2 separate regions of the Homo sapiens genome follow, and region 1 is linked to region 2. The links come from fine-mapping of genetic effects on gene expression. Tissue or cell type: whole blood. Region 2 holds a variant in brackets; the other region holds the start of a gene. All regions are shown on one strand. Distances are between the middles of the regions.

Evidence for each region. PIP is the estimated chance that this variant, and not a neighbour inherited with it, causes the effect.
Region 1: ITPK1 starts here. The variant in region 2 is fine-mapped to the expression of ITPK1 in whole blood (TOPMed, PIP above 0.99).

What each region holds. Positions count from the first base shown.
Region 1 is chr14:93,111,878-93,119,877 of GRCh38, reverse strand. ITPK1 (inositol-tetrakisphosphate 1-kinase) reads left to right here and starts at 3,953. Exons shown (of 11, transcript NM_014216.6): 1 at 3,953-4,106; 2 at 4,573-4,809. The coding sequence starts at 4,715.
Region 2 is chr14:93,057,288-93,065,287 of GRCh38, reverse strand. All of the region lies in intron 3 of ITPK1 (inositol-tetrakisphosphate 1-kinase), which reads left to right. Among named protein-coding and RNA genes, the nearest start is that of ITPK1-AS1, 6.2 kb to the left of the region's middle. The variant C/T (reference allele first, on the strand shown) is at 3,373.

The DNA.
Region 1 (8,000 bases), 55 kb before region 2:
GGCAAACGAGGGTTGCAGGTTTATTTATTTATTTATTTGAGATGTGGTCTCATAGTATTGCCCAGGATGGCCTGAAACTCCTGGGCTCAAGAAATCCTCCTGCTGCAGCCTCCTGAGTAGCTGGGACTACAGGTGTGCCGCCATTCCCAGCCTTTTAAATTTTTATTTATTAGACATGAGGTCTCGCTATGTTGCCCAGGCTGGAGTGTGGAGGCTATTCATAGGTATGATAATCGTGCACTACAGCCTCGAACTCCTGGGCTCAAGCGATCGTCCCATCTCAGCCTCCCAAGTAGTTGGTACTACAGGTGTGCACCACCCCACCTGGCTGTATTTTCAACTCCTGTCATGGAGCAAGGTTTACCTTATGAAGTAAGATAGAGGATCTGAGGCCTCGATAGGCTAAGTGGCCTACAAGGTCACATAGCAAGTGAGTGGTCGAGTTGAGAGCTAGAGACAGAGGACATTTGTGTTCACCTTGGAAGTCCCAGTGAGGACGAGCCTTACCTAGCTCCAACTCAGAAGGCCAGAAGGAAGAATGGTTTGGGGGAGGCTGTAATCAGGGGAAGGATGCAGGGCCCTGGGGTGAGCCCTAAATAAGGGGCTTCCTGTGAGCCTGAGGATGGCCATGCCCTTGTATATACTTTGTCCTCCAGGCAAGTTCTCTGCTGGCCCTTTAAATCTTCTCAACAGCTCTGGGTGGGGCATCTATCCCCACTTTACAGATGAAGATACCAAAAGAACTTCATCCAGGCCAGGCATGGTGGCTCATGCCTGTAATCCCAGCACTTTGGGAGGTCGAGGCAGGCAGATCACTTGAGGTCAGGAGTTTGAGACCAGCCTGGTTAACACGGTGAAACCCCATCTCTACTAAAAATACAAAAAATTAGCCGGGCGTGGTGGCGGGCGCCTGTAGTCCCAGCTACTCAGGAGGCTGAGGCAGGAGAATGGCATGAACCCGGGAGGTGGAGCTTGCAGTGAGCCGAGATTGCGCCACTGCACTCCAGTCTGGGCAACAAAGCAAGACTCCGTCTCAAAAAAAAAAAAAAATACAAAAATTAGCTGGGCGTGGTGACACGTGCCAATAGTCCCAGCTACCGGGAGGTCAAGGCAGGAGAATCGCTTGAACCCGGGAGGTGCACTGGACTCCAGCCTGGATGACACAACAAGACTCCATTTCAAAAAATAAAATAAAATAAAATAATAAAATAAGATAAAATAAAATAATATTAAGAAAAAAAAAGAACTTCATCCAGCTCCTGTTCAGAAGTGACCACACACACACTGTCTTCAGCATCCCTCCCAAGTTCCCCTGGTCCATTTCTCAGGCCTCATCTTCCTGCCCATCTCCATCTTACCGTGCCCTTATTTACGGTGTTCTTCCCTTTTCACCCTCTGAAACTTCGCACCTGTTTTCGCCTTTGCCTGGAATGTTGCCTCCTTCCCCCACTGAACTCCTTCCTACTCATCCTTCAAGATCCTATGCCACAGTCTCCCCAGTCATGCAGCAAAATGGGACAGATTGCCATCTTCCTTCCCATTTCCCTCTCAGCTCTCACCCCACGTTTCCTTTTTTCTTTCTTTTTTTTGTTTTTGAGATGGAGTTTTGCCCTTGCCGCCCAGGCTGGAGTGCAATGGCGCGACCTCGGCTGACCGCAACCTCCGCCTCTCTGGTTCAAGCGATTCTCCTGCCTCAGCCTCCCAAGTAGCTGGGATTACAGGCATGCGCCACCATGCCCACCTAATTTTGTATTTTTAGTAGAGATGGGGTTTCTCCATGTTGGTCAGGCTGGCCTCGAACTCCTGATCTCAGGTGATCCGCCTGCTTCGGCCTCCCAGCGCCCAGCCTCATCCCGTGTTTCTAATCAATGGCTTGTGTCCATTTTCCTCTGCCACACACTGGGCTCTCGTGTGTTTGCCAAAGGAGTGAGGGAATTCCAGGAACCCTCCTGAACCACCCAGCCTCAACTGGTCTTTCAGTTCCTAAGAACAGCAGGACATTTAAAGTCGATGCCTGTAATCCCTACTGCTGACTTCAAGTATCAAGTTTATAGTTGCTGCCCCCATCCCCTTCGTTTTTACTCCCTTAGCCGCCTTCTTTTTTTTTTTTTTTTTTTGAGACGGAGTCTCACTCTGTTGCCCAGGCTAGAGTGCAGTGGCACGATCTCAGCTCACTGCCAGCTCTGCCTCCCAGGTTCACGCCATTCTCCTGCCTTAGCCTCCCAAGTAGCTGGGACTACAGGCGCCCGCCACCACGCCCGGCTAATTTTTTGTATTTTTAGTAGAGACAGGGTTTCACCGTGTTAGCCAGGATGATCTCAATCTCCTGACCTCATGATGTGCCCACCTCGGCCTCCCAAAGTGCTGGGATTACAGGCATGAGCCACCATGCGCAGCCTCCCTTAGCCTTCTTTTATCCATCTTGTGCCTCGGCCCTAGGGGTCCTTGCTATGATCTTCCCTTTATCCAGCTTTCCATGTCCCCCCCAGGAGCCAGGCATTCTAAGCCACAGAGCTGACCCTGGAACCTGTCACCACTTACCTTCTAGGCTCCCATGGCCTATGAAACTCGCAGTACCCTTGCCTAAGGCATGCAGTGCCCGTCCCTAGCTGGCCCCCTGGAGGAGTCCTGTTTCCCACCCATCGTCTTTTCCACTCTCCATCCATCCGTTTTCTCTACCTTGTTAAAGAAAAAAACTAATCAGATTCTCGTTAAAGATGGCAGGGAAGCCAGGCGGGGTGGCTCAGGTCTACAATCCCAGCACTTTGGGAGGCCCAGGTGGGAGGACAGCTTGAGGCCAGGAGTTCGAGACCTGCCTGGGCAACACAGTGTAGTCCCAGCTGCTCGGGAGGCTGAGGTGGGAGGATCAGTTTAGCAGGGGTGTTCGAGGCTGCAGTGAGCTATGACTGCACCATTGCACTCCAGCCTGGGCAGCATAGAGAGATCCTTGTCTTTCTTTTTTTTTTGAGACGGAGTTTCTTAATGTAGGCCGGCCAGGGTGATCACATACCAAGCGTGGAGATATTCTTGACAGCAGGATTCTGGCTAAAACTGGACTAAGAAGGCCAAGGACAGAGCCCAAGGTCGGGGCCTGGTCAGAAAGAGGTCTCGGAGGAGCCTGACTCAAGTGTGATCAAGGGAAGTCTTGGTCACCCGCTGGCAACTTGGCTTTTTCTTGTCTCCCAGCCTCAATTCAAGCTCATCCCCCTTCCCTGCTCCATCAAAATCTCCTTGATTTCCAAGGCCAGCTTCAGTGTCTCCTCTCAAACTTTTCTGAGCCTTCCCTCCACGGGAATCCATTTTTCCTGCCTGGGCCTGGGGAGAGAAGTCCATTTCTCCTTCCCAAACCCAGAGACCATTGAGGCAGGAAAGCTCCCTGGCTGCCCCATAGGGCAGGGCAGGGTAGGCGGGGTTTAGTGACTCCCCGGCGCCGACGCTGACCCGCACCCCTGAGGAAGGGGTCTCCGGGGACGGCCGCTGTTGTCGCTGTCGCCTCCAGTCCCCGCCCCTTCCCCCCTCAGTGAAGGGGACCTAGAGTGAGAACTGGTGGTCACGTCCTACGCCTAGGAGGGCCCCTGGGTGTTCACCCACCCCCCCGGGGGGCCCCATCCTGGGCCAGGGTCCGCTTCCTCGAGGGAAGGGGCGAATTCCTGGAAGGTCTCCTTCCGGGCGCAGTTGCAATGGATTGCCTTGGGGGTGCTGAACCCTGCTGGGGGTACAGAGACGTTTCCGAAACTCAGCGGCTCGGTCGCCCCCAAAGGCCAGGCGGAACACACGCCCACACCGCGGCTCCCTTCCCGAAGTAAGACCGCCGGGCCACGGCCGCCCCCAGGAAGCCCCGCGCCCCGCACCCCACACCCGGGGACACAAACAGGCGCCGGGTAGCCGCGAGGGCCGGCGCGGCGCCTTTAAGAGGCGGCGGGCGGCGCTGCCCCCTGGCGGCCGCCCCGCCGCTTCCTCGCCGCCGCGGGCTCAAGCGGGGCGGCCGGGCCAGCGCGGGGCGGCGGCGGGCAGGGGCGGCGAGTGCGCGGGCGCTCGCCGCCGCCCTTCTCGGCGGGCAGCGCGCGAGGACCAGGCCGAGGAGGAAGTGGCGGCGGCGGCGGCGGGTGAGGATCTCTGGCCGGGCCGAGTGGCCGCGTGCGCCCCGCCGGGGTCCAAGCGCGCCCAGGGGTTACGGCCCGGCTGGGAACATCAGAGGGCGAGGACCCGGGCGGGAGGAGGAGGGAGGAAGGGCTCGGAGGCCGCGCTTCTGCCGCCGCCTGAGGGCGTGTGGCTCGGGCCCGCGCGGCGGGAGGGCGGGCAGGGCGGGGGCGGTGTCTGCGGAGGCCCGGCTTCCCCTCCTGCGGGCCCTGGCCCCAGCTCCGACTCAGACTCAGGCTCAGCCGTGCCCCAGCCTCAGCCGGCAGGCCGGGCGGCGCGGCGCTCGCGAGCCGGTGGGCGGGCGGGCGAGCCCGCAGGCGGCGGGGGCGTGGGCGGTGGCAGCTTGGCCCAGCCAGTGGCCTTCCGCGCTGAGCGCCGCTCCCTCCTCCCGGCCGCCCGCCGCGCCCCGCCCCGCTCCGCTCCGCGCGGCAGGACTGCGCGCCCCAGCTCCGATCCCCGTTCCGCGTCCCCGCCGCCGGGAGGAGGTGCCCACTCGCTCGCGGCGCGCGCCGGCCGCCAGACTCGGCCTGTGGGCGATTTCCTCCGGACCCAGGCTCCCCGCCCGAGGAGGAAGATGCAGACCTTTCTGAAAGGGAAGAGAGTTGGCTACTGGCTGAGCGAGAAGAAAATCAAGAAGCTGAATTTCCAGGCCTTCGCCGAGCTGTGCAGGTAAGGAGGGACGCGGCGCCGGCGCCCGGGGACCCCCGGCCCGAGCCCGGTGACCCCCGGCCCGAGCCCGGTGCAGCCTCATTAGTTGTTTTGGGAGATCGGAGCCAAACGGGAAGAAGCGGCGCGCGGGGAGACTGAGTCCGAGCAGCCAGGTGGCGGTGGCGGCCGCCGGCCGCGTTCCAGGGAAGCGGTGGCCGGTGCGGGCGAGGTGGCACGGACCGGGGCGTTCAGGTGCACTGTGACCCGGCTGGGGAGGCCCCCAGCAGCCCAGGGCGCGGTGGGAGTTCTACTGAGGGTTGCGGAGGGACCTGGGAAATCGGGGCATCCACGCTGTGGGGTAAGGGCTTGAGGGTACTTTTGGACCGGAGTGTTTTTCTTCCTTCGTCCCCTTCCCTTTCATGAAGAAAGGGCACCCACGTTTGTGGACCACCTACTATGTGCCCCGCGTGTGCTCGGCTCTTGAGGCTGTCATTGCATATCATGAGGTTAAGCCCAGTTGAAGCGAGTAGCAATTCTTGGCATGTATGTGGTGATTTGCTGTCTCATTAGAGCCTCGCAGCAGCCCTGCAAATTGGCCAGGGTGGTGATTCTGGGCCACCTGTCTGAGAACGGGGACCGATCGGCAGAGGAGCGGGGTACCTAGCTTGGGGTCCCGCAGCTAGGGAGTGGCTGGTGCGTAGAAAGTGCTGGGTAAATGCCCGTGGTGTGGAGTGGCCTTCTGCCATCTGGGCTGTGTGCCCCTGCTCCCACCATGCTGGTGCTCCTTGGCGGAGTCTCCGGTGTTTAACAGATCACGTTCTTAATAAATTACAGAACTACTGAGTCTTGGGTCAGGTAGGCCTTCCCTTGCTCCACAACTGTAGCTTTGCCTCTGAGAAGCAGTTAAGCCCTTTTCTCAATGCAAGCCTAAGAGAATCTAGCTCTGAAAGCCTTTTGCAAACTCCAGGTGGAAACCTTTTGTGATGCAGCTTGTTAGACTGATTTTTGAAAATGGGCTCTACTTGCATTTTTGTCCCTGTGGGGGCCCCACACATCTTGGAGAATTGAACAGTTGGGTTTCCGTAACCCCTGGTGCTCCTGGGGGCCCGTGGCTGGTCTGAGCTGGCATGCGCAGGTGAGCCTGGCAGCACCTCTGTGTGCCTCATGCCTTTCCCAAGGGCCTGCTGCTCCTTTGCCCCGTGCAAGCCCCGCAGGCGCTCTTCCTGCAGCCAGAGGGGCACAGCTTGTACAGGATAGTGCCTGGTTCTTTATCCCTTGGTCTGGGGATGGGGTTGGCTGCCTTCTCCCAGGCCGGTTTCCCTAGAAGACAGGCTCTTCATGATCAATAGGGCATGCAGAGTGGCCCCAGCAATTCATGAAGAAATCAGGAGGAGCTCGAAGCCAGAGCTTTGAAAATGAGTCTTAGGACCCTTGGAACATTACAAAAGGGTACTTGAACGTTGTACCGCGGATACACTCACTTGTGGGAAGGGCATTCTAAGACACTAAAGAAATTTGGAGCAGCTGCTTTGGCATGTTCTCGAAGTCCAGTTCTGATGTGAGGCACCGGAGCTCCCCCTGCAGTCATGTAAGACTTGGGAAATCCCAGCGAATACCTCGCACCCTTTGTACTGCTGTCTGTATTTATGTCATCTTGTGTCTGCAACTCAAGCTTGAGGCTTGTCATTGGGTTGGCTTGTTTTGCTTGGTAATTAGGAGGCTCTCGCAAAATATTCTTCGCCGAGACTCACAACTAGGTCCTCGTGCTGGACCTGCAGATTGGCTTGACCTTGTAGACATTCTTCCTTTAAAGGGGTGGGAGGTTCAGAGCAAGCTATGCTATCAACGTTCTGGGGAGTAGAGCATTACTTTCTCTGAAAGAGTTGTTGTCTTCAAAGTCTAGTTGCCTTCCTTTGGCCAAAATATTGGCTTCAAAGAAGGCAGAAGTCATCAGGGCCATTCTAGAACCCGAGGAAGCCCACTTTGTGTTTTCACTAGGGAAGCTTTAGATATTTTATCACTTAAGCCTAAGAAGGAAAAGAAAACACCAAAGAGTTTTTCCGTTTCTTATTTATTACTTTCAGGGCAGTGCCCCCTGGTGGCCACATTTCTATACTGGCTGCAAAATGCTGCAACTGTTGAGCCAGTGACCAGGGAGCCCCGTGAGGTTGTTTTGTTTGGTGTGAGGGCCAATGAGACTTTAGTGGCTGAGAGACAGTGCAAAGGACATTATCATGTTTTCCACATTCAGAATCTGGGGGCGCAGGGCTTCTGTACTGACGACGGGTGATGAATTGTCTATGAATTCCCTAATGAAAAAGTCTAAAGGTATTTGAAAATGGCCCTGCTTTGGGCCGGGTGCCGTGTCTTCTGTCTGTAATCCCAGCACTTTGGGAGTCCAAGGTGGGTGGGTCACGAGGTCAGGAGATCGAGACCATCCTGGCTAACATGGTGAAACCCCATCTCTACTAAAAATACAAAAATTAGCCGGGCATGATGGCAGGCGCCTGTAGTCCCAGCTACTCAGGAGGCTGAGGCAGGAGAATCACTTGAACCCGGGAGGCAGAGGTTGCAGTAAGTCGAGATGGTGCCACTGCACTCTAGCTTGGGTGACAGAGCGAGACTCCATCTCAAAAAAAAAAAAAAAAAAAATGGCCCTGCTCTTAATGTTTGGGCAAAGAATGACCCGAATGGTCCGGCCCGGGGTGGGTTGTTTAGCTGAATGTCCGGCCTTGTAAAAATCTGATCTCAGAGCAGGAAGAGATGTTGGCCATCATCTCATCTAGCCCCTTTGTCTTACAGATGGGGAAACCCATCAAGAGAGGGGGCAGGTTCCGGACTCTTGGTCTTTTCCTTTAACTTCTAGAATGGGTCCAACCTGGCTACCTTGAGATTGCCTTTCTGATTGGGCATCTCCGACAATAAGGCAGTCTCCCTCATTATCTTTCCAGGGGTCTGGTGGCTGCTATTTAGCCCCCAGGACACATTCCTTGCAAAGCTGAGCCCCTCTGCAAGTGTAATCCTTGTCTTGGGGGGAGGGTTTGGGGGGTAGTGCACGTTGATGGCAACAGTGGGTGGTTAGAGCCACTTCATGGGCCATGAAGTGCCCCACCTGCCGTAGGTAGGGACAGGCGCCAGCCTTTTCAGATGTGCACTCTGATAGGATGGGGCTCTGCTAGCCAGCAGATGGGCCTTTGAATCCACTTGTTTGT
Region 2 (8,000 bases):
AGGATCTCTTCTGTTTGATTTATTTTCATGAGTAAAAAAGCCAGAAATGTCTGTAGCATAAGTTATGTCTGTTTGGTTTGGCTAAAGCAGGGCTGACCAGGGATGAGTCTCCTGCTGTGAGTGAGTGAGGTCCCAGCTTGTCCTCTGGGGTTAGAGCAGATTTTGCTCTGGCTGGGGTGCATTTGGGGGCATGGGCTGATTTATGTTTTCCTTCTTTCTGGATCTCCCCAGGTCTAGCCATGATGGGGTGAAGGCATCACCCCCAGGGAGTGCTGACCCCTGACCCTAGCCCCATGACCCCCTCCCGTGCTAGTTCATTATGGGCAGGGGAGGTCCCAGGGATTCCCCGCACACTCATCGTGACTTTTCCAAAAGCTGTGTAAATCCAGAGTTGTAACTTGGCTCTGTCTTTCTCCTTCCCCTTGATCCACCCTCAGCTCAAGAACTCCCCTGGGAAGCACAGTGGCTCCCGTCTTTGCCTCAAGTTCTCTGATGTTCTGCACAAATGGTAGGCAGAGACAGCCCTTTCAGGGACCTGATTGCCCTGGTGTCTAGTTCTCCTTTCACAGGCCTGTTTTCCAGCTCGACTGTCAATCTGAGTCTTTCTCTTTTTGAGCTTTATGCAATGGCCTTAGAGTATACCCTATAAGGAGATCCCGGCTTGCTGGTGCCCGGCCCTGCAGCTGTGTCCCAGAAACTTGGCGGTGGTGCATGGGGCTCACTCAGCACTTCTACAGAAGCCGCCTGGGGTGGCTCCCAGGGTTCCGGTGGGAATGGGGTACAGAGGCCTGAGAGGGGGCTTTGATCAGGTGTCCTGGGGGAACATTTAGAGCTCCTGGATTCTCTGCAGGAAGGCCACCAGCAGCCAGGCATGATGGCCTGTGTCTGTAATCCCAACACTTTGAGAGGCCAAGGCAGGAGAATTGCTTGAAGCCTGGAGTTCAAGACCAGCCTGGGCGACATAGTGAGACCCCATCTCTACGAAAATTTTAATTTTTATTTTTTGAGATGGAGTCTCGCTCTGTCGCCCAGGCTGGAGTGCAGTGGCGCGACCTCGGCTCACTGCAAGCTCTGCCTCCCACGTTCACGCCATTCTTCTGCCTCAGCCTCCCAAGTAGCTGGGACTACAGGTGCCCGCCACCACGCCCGGCTAATTTTTTGTATTTTTGGTAGAGACAGGGTTTCACCATGTTAGCCAGGATGGTCTCAATCTCCTGACCTCGTGATCCACCCACCTTGGCCTCCCAAAGTGCTGGGATTACAGGTGTGAGCCACCATGCCCGGCCAATTTTTTTTTTTTAAAGGTCACCAGCCCTGTTGTCTGGGCAGTAAGCACCTAGTAGGATTGCTTCAGAGTTCTAGAATGCGCATGTAAAAATTCCAAAGTGCGTTTGGCGTCTGGGCTGGGCTTCTATGAGCAGCCCAGGCAGCAGCAGTGAGAACTCCTGTGTGTGCCTCGTCTACTGAGTGCCAGGGTTAGTGCCCCACTTGCCAGGTGAGAGGACTGAGGCTCACACAGGTGGGCTTGTCACAGCCTAGCATGTGAGCTGTGGAGCTGGGATTGGATTCTAGAGGTGTGATGGCATAGCCAGTGCCTCTTCTGCTCCGAAGACTGCCTGCCTGGTGAGAGTCCAGTGACTCCTCCCTAGTTCCAGCTCCATCCCTCCAAGGCTGTGCAGTCCTGGGTAGTGGCACAACCTCTCTGAGGCCCATCTACCAGATGGTGATGAGATGGATGATTGAGACGAGGGGAGGGCAAGTGAGAAGGCCTTCTAAAACTCAGGCCCTCGTAGGAGAAGCGTGGGTAGCCTGAGGTCAGGGACAGGGCTTAGTGTGCTGTGTGGGGCTGTGGGGAGTGGGAAGCTCACTGGTTTTCTGGCTCCTGAGATGACTCGAGGGGTCTTGTGAAGCTCACACCCCTGTCTCACTGGGCAGGAGTTTGGCCTCCACTGTGGGTCTCTGCCATCTCAGGTGGGTGGGGGACCAGGGGTCCCTGGGCAGGAGGGTGTGGGTCCTGGCTTGGAGGCAGACCTTGGCTCACTCCCTTCCTTGCCCAGGCAGTATTTTTGCCGCAGGCCCTGCCAAGTAGAAATAAGTTATTTACAGTGTTTTGACAGGATCATCGGCAGCCGGGATGGGCAAGGATGCCTTTGGGACTGAGCTAATGGCCAAGGAGTGGGGCTTGGAGAAGGGTCTGGCGTGGGAGAGAGATGGGAGATGGGGGTGGGGTGGGGGCGCACATTTACTGAACTTGTTAAATCTTGACAAATGCCAGGCCTGGCCCTCCCTTAAGCCAGGGCTTTGGGGCCTGGTGAGGGCAGGACTTGATGAGTTTTCCTGTCGACCAAATATTCCGCCGGATCGCTCAGGACCCTCGGTTATTTTTGCTGTCTGAGCCCTCAGTGCCTTCCTTTGTCCATCAGGGACAAGGACCCCTGCCCACCCAGTATATCTTCTTGGGGAGAAGATGAAACGCCTTGGTGTATGGTAGGCCAGGCCCTGGCCTTGACTGTGAGCCTGGCAGCCCCTGCAGCCCCTCACACTGGGCCACCATTGACCTGCTTTACGACTTCAAATAGCACAGACCTGCCGTGGGACCAGGGCCTCCTGCTAGTGCCTGACCTCTGTCCTGCATGATGTTCTGACCCTCCAGAAGCAGGTTTGAAAGTGCCTTTCAGGAAGGTCTGGAGAGCCTCCTGTGTAGCTTGTGGGAACAAAATGTGTTACTCCCTAGCCGAAGGATAACCAGCACACTAAAATGTGAATAAAGTGTGACTTTATTCATGTCCTTTGAGCATAAAAATGGCACACACACTGATGCATTAAAAAAACTTTTTTTTTTAATTAAACTTTTTTTAGAGATGGGGTTTTGCTCTGTCACTCAGGCTGGAGTGTAGTGGTGCGATCATAGCTTGCTGCAGCTTTGAACTCCTGGGCTCAAGCAATCCTCCCACCTCAGCCTTCTTAGTAGCTGGGACCATGGTGTGCACCAACATCTTTGATGCAGTTTTTTTTTTGAGATGGAATCTCGCTCTGTCGCCCAGGCTGGAGTGCAATGGCTCGATCTTGGCTCGCTGCAACCTCCGCCTCCCAGGTTCAAGCGATTTTCCTGTCTCAGACCCCAGAGTAACTGAGATTACAGGCACGCGCCACCATGCCTGGCTAATTTTTGTATTTTTAGTAGTGATGGGGTTTCACCGTGTTGGCCAGGGTGGTCTTGAACTCCTGACCTCAAGTGATCTGCCCGCCTCGGCTTCTAAAAGTGTTGGGATTACAGGCGCGAGCCACCAGCCTTGACATAGTTGTAAACAAAGTTGTGGTTCTGTTGTAATCTGTTCCCACAAACACACTTAGCATTCTCTTAGAGCTTCC[C/T]CCTTTGTTAAATGTCTACTTAGGCTTGCTTTTTAAATGACTGCATAATATTATCTGATTGTAACTGAAGTTCTTTGATTCCCTTGGTTGATGCTGACCATGGTTCTGGTCTGTCACCTTTATAAATAGTATTGTGATAAACATCCACTTTTGATACTGTTTGGGCAAGCCTGTGATGATTATTTCTTTGGGTTACATAAGTAAGTTGTATATATTGTTTTTGTAGTCTGTAGGAGGAATATGTACTTCTTGGTGAAATAAACAAACCCCTGCATTTTGGGGAATTACAGAAAGGGAAGGTCTTGTGGGAGTTTGTGCTTCTAGATTTGAATGCTGTGTTATCACCTGTGCACCAGGCACGCATACAGCAACTCATTTCTCTCTCATGTGCCCTCCCTCCCCTCCTTTCTCACTCCTGCCCCAGACCCACTCTCTCTGCCCATGAGGCTGGGGGCTGTAGCCTAGCCGCAGCTGTGCCCATGGACTTTTCTCCCCTTGCAATTGTTCCTCACCCCAGGGAGAGGAGGAAGGAGTGGTGGGCTCTGGAGGAGGTGGGTGGTCCCCGGGTGGCCTCTGGTCTTGCTTCTTCCCAGCACCGAGGGTGCTTCAGCCTCCTTGCCTGGAAAAAGGGGTTGTCGTAACACCAACCTCTAAGGTTAAGAAGGGTAATTGAGATACAGTGTCAAAGTACTTATCACACAGCCTGGCCCCAGATCTGTGTTGAGGAATCTGCAGCTAGTGGTGGAGGGTTAGGAGTCATTTGGGGAATTGCAGTCCGGAAAGTTAATTTCTGAAGAGTATCAAACACCAGCTTGCATGTTAAGTTGTCTTTTGGAGTGATCCCTCCAGTGATTCCCTAGTGGTATGGAGCCAGTCCAGATTTGGAGTGGAACTTTTGTTGTGGGTGTGGGTCACTGTTCCAGGGAACCCCAGCTACCTGACCTTGAACCAAAATCCTTGTCATTGTGGAGCCTGTGTCCCCCTCTGCCTTGGACTTTTTTACTTTTATCTTCCTAGTTCTCATAATAGCTCTGTGAGATGGGATCTATTTATTATTCTCCCTATTTTGCAGATGAGGAAACTGAGGCTCAGATCTGTCACCTGCTTCTGTGATATTTCTAGTCACAGAGCTCCAAGCACCAATCACTCTGGGTCTTTGAACTCAGATCTGCTGTTGCCTATGGCCTAGGCTCTTTCTACTCTGACTCTTCCATCCCCTGCCCCTTCCCCAGTGCTAACCAGACCTCTCTGGTTCCTCATAAAAACCTCCCGTGGCCTTCCTGAATTTTCCAAGGCTACCACACAATCAGCCCCCTAATACCTTGCAAGCATGGGCCTTTTGCAGCAGAGCAGGGTCCCCTCCATTCCTGAGCTTGTTTCACTGTCCCCATGCTGATACTCGCCTGTTCCAGACTGTGTACCCTCAGCCTGGCCTCTCTCCTGGTCAGGGTGCATGCCTGGCCCACGTAGCCTGGTGGTTCTGTGCTCGTCTCTGTGGCTCAAATTTGCTCCCTGTCTTCTGACCCTGTATGTGTGGTGACCCAGAACGTGTTCCTCTTCATATTAGCCAGGGAGCTTGCAGGAAGCAGAGCTCACCCTCAGTGGTTCAAAGAGAGCCTTGAAAGCAGGGGCTGTTTGTTGAGCTGTGGGCAGGGTTAAGGGAGCAGCGGGGGCTGGTGAGGCACCTAGAGCCTGGCAGCAGAGAGGAGCTGTTCTGCTTCTTGGGCCGCAGGTAAGGTGAAGAAAGTGTCGCAGAAGCTCTGTGATGGTAGTCATAGCAAGCCACAGCCACTGCCCAGGCATGTCACTGAAGCAGGGAGAGAGAGGGGACTAAATACCCCACCCCCCTCCTCCTGCCCTCTGGTCTCCTGCCAGTGACCCCTCTTGGCCAAGTGCAACTGGAAGCCCTGGATCTTGAATGCTGCGTTCTACGGCAGTCAGCCTCCCAGGCTCAGAGCCAGGCAGTGTGGATGGGGGTGAGCAGGGAGTGACCAGCACCCCCCACCCCTGCCTCATGACCTGCACCCCCTCCACCCCTGCCTCGTGACTTGCACCCCCTCCACTCCTGCTTCGGGACCCTCACCCCCTCCACCCCTGCCTCGGGACCCCCACCCCCTCCACCCCTGCCTCGTGACCAGCACCCCCTCCACCCCTGCCTCGTGACCCGCACCCCCTCCACCCCTGCCTCGTGACCCGCACCCCCTCCACCCCTGCCTCGTGACCCGCACCCCCTCCACCCCTGCCTCGTGACCGTGACCCACACCCTCTCCACCCCTGCCTCGTGACCCGCACCCCCTCCACCCCTGCCTCGTGACCCGCACCCCCTCCACCCCTGCCTTGTGACCTGCACCCCCTCCACCCCTGCCTCATGACCAGCACCCTCCCCACCCCTGCCTTGTGACCAGCACCTGCGCCCACCTTGAGACCCGCACCCCCTCCACCCCTGCCTCGTGACCTGCACTCCCTCCGTCCCTGCCTCGGGATCAGCACCCGCCCCCGCCTCGAGACCCATACCACCTCCACCCCTGTCTCGTGACCCACACCCCCCTCCACCCCTGCCTTGTGACCCGCACCCCCTCCCCCCTGCTTAGGACCCGCACCCCCTCCACCCCTGCTTCGTCACCCATACTCCCTCCACCCCTGCCTCATGACCAGCACCCATCCCCGCCTCGAGACCCACACACCCTCCACCCCTGCCTCGAGACCCACACCCCCCTCCACCCCTGCCTCATGATCTGCACCCCCTCCACCCCTGCCTCGTGACCCACACCCCCTCCACCCTTGCCTTGTGACCTGCACCCCCTCCACCCCTGCCTCACGACCTGCACCCCCTCCACCCCCCTCGTGACCAGCACCCGCCCCTGCCTCGAGACCCGCACCCCCTCCACCCCTGCTTCATGATCCGCACCCCCTCCACCCCGCCTCGTGACCCGCACCCCCTCCACCCCTGCCTTATGATCCGCACCCCCTCCACCCCTGCCTCGTGACCCGCACCCCCTCCACCCCGCCTCGTGACCTGCACCCCCTCCACCCCTGCCTCACGACCTGCACCCCCTCCACCCCGCCTTGTGACCCGTACCCCCTCCACCCCACCTTGTGACCAGCACCCGCCCCCGCCTCAAGACCCGCACCCCCTCCACCCTCCCTCGTAACCCGCACCCCGTTCACCCTTGCCTCATGATCCGCACCCCCTCCACCCCTGCCTCGTGACCTGCACCCCCTCCACCCCACCTCATAACCCGCACCCCCTCCACCCCTGCCTCACGACCTGCACCCCCTCCACCCCTGCCTCGTGACCCGCACCCCCTCCACCCTGCCTCGTGACCAGCACCCACCCCCGCCTTGTAACCCGCACCGCTTCCACCCCGCCTCGTGACTCACACCCCCTCCACCCCGCCTCGTGACCCGCACCCCCTCCACCCTGCCTCGTGACCCGCACCCCCTCCACCCCGCCTCGTGACCCGCACCCCCTCAACCCCTGCCTCGTGACCCGCACCCCCTCCACCCCTGTGTTGCGACCTACACCCCCTCCACCCCTGCCTTATGACCCTGTGGACCTCAAGGCAGAGCAGCAATGTGTCCCGTGGCCTCTGTGAGAGCGGACCCAGTTCTTCTGTCCCTACCCAGAGTCCCGCATGGCCACTCTGGCTTCGACCTTCCAGACTGGCCCTCCCAGATGCCCCTGTGGCCATCACCCCATGGCTCATTTCTGTCATCAATTTATGATTGATCCTTTAAGGGAGCTGATGGGCTTGCAGGCCCAGGGCCCTAACAGGGGCTCAGCCCTTCATTCCTTCTGTTGCTGGGTGCTCACCCAGGCCCCAGTGGCAGGTCCCCTGCTGCCCTCTAGGGACTCTAAGATGACCAAGTCTTTGACCTCTTCTGCGTCAGTAGCTCAGGGAGACAGACAACCATGGGGCCGCCTGGGAAGATCGGGCCAGGGAGCTGGGGAGGGCTCTCGCCGAGCTGATGGGTTTCTCCCACCTGTCAGTAGGTAGCCCCTTGAGAGACAGCATGTGGTGATGCCAGAATCGTGGGTCATGATCCTTTTTCTCTCCATCAAGGTGCCTAGCGCCACCAAGCATGGTGAGAATGACCAGGAGGGTGCCTGGTGGGTGAGCCCTGAGTCGTGTGGCCCCCATGGGAGAGCATGAAGCCACGGCTGCCTGTGCTGCAGGCTGGGGCCGCAGGAGACTGGGGTCCCTGCTGGTTCTGCCTCTCCTCCCTGCATGGCCTCGGCCGGGCTCTGCTTCTTTCTCTGTCTGACAGCTGATAGGATCTCATGGGTCCCGTTTCACTCTCACCTTCTGTAAATCCCTGATTCTTCAGAAAACGGGGCTAGAAAATCTCCCAGGTGTACTCGCACGTCTGTTTCCTTTCTTAGCCTTTCATCTTGAAGTCAGCTTGGTGAGGTTGCCCTGTTCATACTGCAGAATCCAGGGATCTGAGGCCTCTCGCCCCCTGGGCAGCAAGTGAGTAGGAGTGAGCAAGTGTGTGTGAGTGAGTGAATGTGTGAGTGAGTGTGCATGTGGGAGAATTTGTCGATCTGCTTGAAGCAGGCTCTTTGGGTGCTGTTTCAGCAGGACAGATTTCGAGAGAACACAGCTAGCTCTCCACGTTGGACCTCG